Homo sapiens: one gene and its partner. The protein of the gene in region 1 purifies or fractionates together with the protein of each later gene. This does not show direct contact. Each region holds a gene or a part of one and is shown on either strand. Other genes may lie near its edges.

What was found. Proteins that work in one complex are often made in the same cells at the same time.
Region 2: the proteins of PHACTR2 (region 1) and TCEAL4 fractionate together in Homo sapiens (co-fractionation; one large-scale study listed by BioGRID). This does not show direct contact.

What each region holds. Positions count from the first base shown.
Region 1 is NC_000006.12:143,764,965-143,768,464, forward strand, and holds part of PHACTR2 (phosphatase and actin regulator 2), read left to right. Parts: intron 1-296; coding exon 297-834; intron 835-3,500.
Region 2 is NC_000023.11:103,584,106-103,588,229, reverse strand, and holds TCEAL4 (transcription elongation factor A protein-like 4), read right to left. Parts: upstream 2,716-4,124; 5' UTR 2,606-2,715; coding exon of another isoform or gene 2,470-2,605; intron 2,372-2,469; exon of another isoform or gene 2,103-2,371; coding exon of another isoform or gene 1,929-2,102; intron 1,582-1,928; coding exon of another isoform or gene 1,555-1,581; coding exon 907-1,554; 3' UTR 501-906; downstream 1-500. UniProt on the Homo sapiens protein: May be involved in transcriptional regulation.

The sequences.
Region 1 (3,500 bases):
CAAGGGGCAGAAGATTCTCCCTTTGGCTGGCTCAGCTAAAGACTAAAGTGAGAGAAGACAGAGGACTCTTGTTCCTCTGAGTTTTGCCGTAAATATCACTTGCTCCTTGCTGGATTGGAGGAAGGGAGGGGCAGAAGACAAGACTATTATCATGATTAGCCTATTTTCTCTTATACATTTATTCAACAAACTTTAAAGGGAACATTTTAAATGTTGTTGACAGTTACACCTTGGTTACTTTATTTTAAAAAGCATTGTATTCTTTGATTTTTTAATGCAAGGTCTCTCTATTGTAGCTGGCTCCTCTCATTCAAAAAAAACAACTGGCTCTAAAGCATCAGCTTCGCCATCCACTTCATCCACCTCATCTCGTCCCAAAGCTTCAAAGGAGACAGTTTCTAGCAAAGCAGGGACAGTGGGGACCACCAAGGGCAAGAGAAAAACTGACAAGCAGCCAATAACTTCTCACCTGTCCTCAGACACAACAACTTCTGGCACATCCGACCTGAAAGGAGAGCCTGCAGAGACCAGAGTGGAGAGTTTCAAACTCGAACAGACTGTCCCTGGAGCTGAGGAGCAGAACACAGGCAAATTCAAGTCCATGGTCCCTCCACCCCCTGTGGCTCCAGCACCTTCTCCTCTGGCCCCCCCTCTCCCTCTTGAGGATCAGTGCATTACTGCCTCAGACACTCCAGTTGTCCTCGTCAGCGTTGGAGCTGACCTGCCCGTCTCTGCCTTAGACCCAAGTCAGCTTCTTTGGGCTGAAGAGCCGACGAACAGAACCACTCTCTACTCAGGCACTGGCTTAAGTGTTAACAGAGAAAATGCAAAATGGTGAGTTGGGGAACAAACCCCCTATTTTATCTGAGAACTAAAGATCACTAATATATTCTGTTGGAAATGAAGCACCGGGTTTGCTTTCTTATATAATTTAATCTACTGAGTGTTAGGTAGGCATACATGTGATCCAACCATTGCTTTGTCAGAGCCCTGCCCTGGGAATGCCTAGGGCTGCTGGAGAAAATTACATTGGTAGAGCTGACAAATACCACTTGAGATCAATGTTTTCAAGTACACTTAGAACCTGCTTCAGCACTGCTCAGCAGTCCACAGTTCCCTTCTCTTTCCTTTCAGTGCTTATTTTAAATCTTTACTTTACCATTGTGCTTACCTACTCATGTCAGCAAGTTACTGAGCCTTCCCCTTCACCAAGAACATAAAGAAGATCAGAAGAGAACTCTCAAATTTGAACTCTTTTTTCTCCATCAGTAGAGTTGTCCCCTTTCTTGTTCCTTTAAATTCCCACCCAGCTTAAATGTTATGTCCTCTGTGAAGCCATTCAGTACTTCTAGACAGAATTGGTTATTGTGTCTACTATACTTAACCCTGTGGGACAGAATTAGCCAACATGTCTTACATAAGACACCTCTGTGTGCCCAGCAACCACTCCAGAGTCTGATATGCCATAGGCACACAAAGGATGCTCATTGAATTGTTGAAAGAAAATAAAAAAGGGATTTAAGATGGTTATAGATAAAGTCAGCCTACTTTAACATTGCGGAAGCAGCATTGAAGATAAGATGACCCTATTGCTAGATTTTGTAGAGTATAATGGAAGATAAAAGATAGTGCTCAAGTAGTCTTAGTTTCATTTAAGAAGGTACCTGAACAAAATGGGCCAAGGAACTCAATGTTACCTCACCCTCATCCAGTTGGTGGGTTAGTTGCTTTACCACCACCCAGTTGCCCAAGCTGGAAACCTGGGGTTCATCCAAGGGTCCTCATTCTCTTTCATTCTTTGCATTTCATCACTCACAAAGTCCTATAAATATTCTACTTACAGGTAAATAAAACATATTAGCCCTGTCTCACGAGTATGAAGGGATGGATGGCTGTCAGAGTATAGTAGACGCAATGATAAATTCTGTCTGGCAAAGGCTTAGAGCTCTTGCATCCTGGCTTTTTGCTCCTGAGTCTAAGAACAAAACCTGTATTCATTGTTCAAATCATGTAAAAGGTTCTCTTTCAAAACAATCTGTCATGTTAGACTTAAAAAAAATTATTACATTAATTAGGTTGGTTTTGGTCAAGAAACTAAAATATCAACTTTAATTCTTTAATTGCTAATGATAATAACCTTTATTTATTGAATACTCATTTAGTGTCAGGAACTAAGCACTGTACATGTATTATCATTTTATTTACACAAGTCTTCCCAAAAGTATCCCTGTTTTATAGATAAGAAAACTGGCACTGAGAGAGCTAAAATAGTTTGCACCAGACTGCCCAGTTGGTGGTGGTGAAGCCAGAATGCATACCCAATTCCATGCTCTGAATGAATAATTTCATGTTTTCCAAAGCAGTGGCTTCTACTTCTACTGCCATTTCTCTTCTGTTAGTTTCTTTGGGTTTTTTTAAGTCATTTTGAGCACCAATATTTGAAGGACAGCCAAGAAAAAATAAATGTCAAATTACAAATTAATTTATTTTCTTTGTTTGACATTTTAATAAAAGATATGGGAAAAGAAGATTTATTGAAATGAACGGTTATGGTGTCTTTCTTAGGACATTTTGTGCTGCTGTAATAGAGTACCTGAGACTGGGTAATTTATAATGATTAGAATATTGGCTTACAGTCCTAGGGGCTGAGAAGTCCAAGATCAAGGCAGCAGCATTTGGCAAGGATCTTCTTTCCATGTCATCACATGGTGGAAGGTGGAAGGGCAGAGAGCACAACAGAGTGAACCTACCCCTGTGAGCCCTTTTGAAAATGGCATTAATCTATTCACGAGGGCAGAGCCTTCATGACTTAAACACCTCCCACTAGGCCCTACCTCTCAACACTTTCACACTGAGGATGAAGGTTTTTGTTTTGTTTTGTTTTGTTTTTTGAGACAGAATCTTGCACTGTCACCCAGGCTGGAGTACAGTGGCATGATCTCGGCTCACCTCAACCTCTGCCTCCCAGGTTCAAGCAATTCTCCTGCCTCAGCCTCCCCAGTAACTGGAACTACGGGTGCCTGCCACCACGCCTGGCTAATTTTTGTATTTTTAGTAGAGATGGGGTTTCACCATATAGGCCAAGCTGGTCTTGAACTCTTGACCTTGTGATCCGCCTGCCTCAGCCTTCCAAAGTGCTGGGACTACAGGCGTGAGCCACCATACCCAGCTAGGATTAAATTTTAACCCATGAATTCTGAGGGACACATTCAAACCCTAGGAGCATTCTTAATACTTCCAGCACACAGCAAATGTCTTCATTTAACTATAGTGAGTATTTTCCAACATTGCCATCACTTCCAACCATTAGAACTGAACATTCATTCTTACAGCATATATTTTTTGATTGCCTTTTCTGTGCTGGGCAATGTACTAAGCACCAAGGATACAAAAGTGAGCAAGGCAATATAGTTAAGACTAGCTTTTACCAAAATATTGTCTGATGTGCCCAGGAAGTATAATGTTTAAGGTAACATCTGAATTTTGGGAACTAGATTGGG
Region 2 (4,124 bases), on another chromosome or scaffold:
GGTCTTCAGCCCACCAGCAGCAGCTGGGGCCTTAGGAGGGTGCAGGATCCATGAGAAGGGGCACACTACCTTTCAAGTATGGCATTACCCAGGAAGAGTGGCACCCATCTCTCAGCTGTCTGGACTTATTTCTGGGCACAGGTGAGACCCTCCTTCAGCCCTTCCCAAGTATCTGACTGGGCACTGGTTCTGCTAGTGCAAGGGGAGAGAGTAGGAGCCAGCCTAACACAGCTCACACACTCAATACCTCATTTGATCTTCTCCACATGTCTAGGCTAATTTTATCCCCATTTCACAGATGTCAAGGCTGTCCCTTACAGCAATGGCTCTGTAATAACCATCGAGTTGACTCCTCCAGCTTCCAGTCCCAGAGGTAATGCAACTTTTACCTATCATTTTATGTCCTCACAAGAATTTTAAGTATATCCACTGTCTTTATAAGTTCACTGGGCAGTTCATTTGAATGCTTATTCAAATGAATGAAATTCAAATATTCACTGTTTTCCAATACTTTATATTTTATTATTTTTATGACTAAAGAAATCTGTTTTTAGGAGAAAAATGGACAGATGAACAAAAAAGAACAGAAAAAATCACCCAGAGATAACCACTGTTAATCTTTTAGTGGACACAGCTTTCAGAATTGTTTTCTATACTATATTACTAGGTAAGTATCTTTGTAGTTTTACAAAAATGTACTGATGCCATATATTTGGTTCTGCAAGTTGTGTTTTTTAATTTTACAATGCACCATCAACATTTTTTCCATGTAACAGATGAACATTTCCTACTGAGAACACTGCATTGCAGATAGGTCAAAAGGCTGCTAGCAACAGGAGGGATGCCTAAAGTAAAGTATTACCGTAACGTTAAAGCACATGGCCTGGTAAATGCCTGCCAGGGACACTACACATAAGGAATGTCTTCAATGTCCCTTCGTGGGGCCCTGCAGCCACCCCTGAATTCCCTTGGACCTCTAGGGTAGAAGGGGTCCTGTAAATTTCTTTGCATCCACAAAAACGCCCCCAATTTCTGTTTGCTTTTTCTCTTCTCATCCTGCACCTTAGCCATATTGTCAAATTCTCTTATCATGTCCTCATTGCTGAAATTCATATCATGTATGGCCTCTTTATACTCCTTGAGGTAATGAGCCAGCCCCTTATTAGTTTTTCTTTTGGCTTTCCTGGGTACATCATCCTCAGCTGGGCGCTTTCCTGCAGCCCTTGTTTCACTCCCTGGCTCTCCTTCACTCTCTGGCTTTCCCTCTATCTCTGGTTTTCCCTCTCTCTCTGATCCTCCCTCCATCTCTGACTCTCCCTCCCTCTCTGACTTTCCTTCTTTTGCCTCTCCCTCACTCTCTGGCTTTCCTTTATCCTTTAACATTTCCTCATCTCCTGTTTTGCCCTTGTTTTCTGTCTTTCCCTCGTTTTCTAACTTCTTGTCTTCCAGAGTACAAGTTACTTCTGGCTTTCTCTCGTCTTGTGGCTGTTCTTCATTTTCCATCTTTCCTTGGTTTGAAGCCATTCCTTCATTTTCACTGTAGAGTTTTTCCATGTCGAGATTTCCCCTCCTTTTCCTGTCCTGGGGGATGGGGGTGGAGGAAAGAGGAGACAAAGAGGAGACATGGGAGACTGAGTGCATGGGGTGGAATGCAGGTCTGGATAGTACTTGCATCTCACCCCTGATGAGGGTTCCCCTAAGCTGGCCAGGCCTCCAAGAGGGCCTTCTGCCCACCACGTAGCCCGCCACTCCTCCCACACACGTGAGCCAGCCATTGCCTGACAGGCTCTGCCACTTTCTCTGCACTGGTTCAGCCTGGTAAGGTGTGTGTTCATGTGGGTGGGGGAATGGGAAAGGCCCCAATTCGGCCCTGGCCGGGCCCTCCACACTCTCAACCCTTGTGGGCCCCTGTCCATGCAGCCCCGTACTTTCACGGACCTGCGGGGATTCTGGACAGGTTGCTCCTCCTTTTCAGGCTTCGCAGAGCGCTGGGAACAACAGACGCGCAGACCTGCAGACAGACAGGAGACAGGGGCAGGGTCTGCGCGCTCAGCGGGCTCACACGGACGCGGTTCCCTTTCCTGAGTCCAGGCCCTTCTCATCCAACGTTTTCCTCCCCTACCTCCGCCGCACCCCAGCCGCCATTTCTTTCCAGGCCTCGGGCACCAAATCAGGATGCTTTCCAAACTAATTTTGGGTCTCTGTGCCCTTCTTCCTCAGAGGCAACTCTCCTCCCCAGCCTCGCGGTCAACGTTTTTCTCTACGCACGGGAACGGCAGATGGGGTTTACTTCCACTGTCTCACTACTGGGGCGGCCCCAGCCCACCATCTCCGGCTCCAAAATGGACGGAGGGCAGAGAAGAGGATGTGCCTGGAAAGCGAGCATGGATACTTGGGGGTGCTCGCCTTCCTCACCCTCTGCCCACTGCCTACGTGCTCCCCCTCAGCCACCCCTAGCCGTTTTCCCACCGCCATCTCTGTCCACACTCGGGCCAGCTTCCCTCGACTCGACCCGACCCCACCCCCAGCCTTTCCCCCTGCCGTACCCGTTCCCCTTCCGCCATTCCAGTGTTCCGCTGGCAGCGTGGAAGGCCCGCACACTGACCTGGAAGAAGCTGGACCAAGAATTAGGAGCCCAGGAACCGGAGCAGACGAGACCCAGCCGCGGGGACAGAGGGCAGGCACTCGGACCGGTGCCTACATCTGCGCCCGTGCAGATCACGTGAATGCCGCAGCCCAGGAGTTCCACCGCCCCACGCCCCGCCTCCTAGCCAGCCGCTTCCAGCCACCCACCACCTCTCCAGCAGGTACCCTCTTACCTCCCTGGGCCCTTTTGTCCTTTTTTTCTTGTTAAGAAATTAATCAAAGAAAGAATCTTAATGAAAATCACAGTTTTTTTTTTAATGAGTTGGGCGGTCCAGAAGAGGAGTCTTGATAATGTTGCTCTTAAATTCCACTGAAATAACGTAGACCCACCCGATAAAATCGTATGAATGTGAACTTAAGTACTGTATAAAGAATAGAATATTGCCCTTTAGAAAAAACTTAAGAAAAATTTTCCAAAATAAATGAAATTGTCCCTTTTTCCTGACATGTACAAACATAAATTTTCAAATGAATAAAAAATAAAGTTATATTTGAAGCAAAATAAAACAACGATTAATTTATCTTAAGTGAGAAACTGAATATACAATGACCAGACCACATACGAAAATAGAACTGTGACCCACAACCTTTGCTGCAAGCAGCTCAAAAAGCCAAAGTATAGCATCTGCAGAAATGTTCAGGACTTTAATCAATTTGCTAGCCTTTCTGGCCTTTTTAATTTTTTTGACCTGATGACAAACAAGAAAAACCCAAATATGAACCCATATTCAATCACATAGGATGCTTGCCTCTAGTTGGCCTGCCTCTAGCTTCCTCACGTCAACAACATCCAATCAGAGCGTAGCTGAAGTCTTTGTGTTTTTGTTTTCCACTATAAAGCTTTCCCACTCCCCTGCCTGTCTTTGAATCTCTGCCAGACTCAAATGATGGTGGCTTGACTTCCTTGCTATAAAAAAGCTGTGAATAAGTAGCACTTGTTTGTTCTCTTATGGGTAGACTCCGTTTATCTCCACATAAGCTTTTGGTGTGGAAGGCCTTTATAGTCACGTGCCACTTAATAACGGGGATATGTTCTGAGAAATGCATCAGGCAATTTCGTGGTGGTGCGAACATCGTAGAGTGTAGTTATACAAATCTATATGGTATAGCCTACTACACTCCTAGGCTACATACTATAGCCTATCGTATTCTATGCTGTCCGTTGTCGTTGACCAATCGATACGCAGTGTGACTGTACAACAAAGAGACAAATGCTGATAGATTAGATTACATGAAAATTTTTAACAGATTTGTTGAAGGACTGGGGACACATGCACTCTCCCCTGCTCTTATTGAATATGTTGGTGAAATTTTTCTGAAGATCAACTTTGTAAATTATTTAAAAATAAAAATATCGGCCAGGCACGGTGGCTCACACCTGTAATCCCAGCGCTTTGGGAAGCTGAGGCGGGTGGATCACCTGAGGTCAGGAGTTCAAGACCAGCCTGACCAGGATGGTGAAACCCCATCTCTACTAA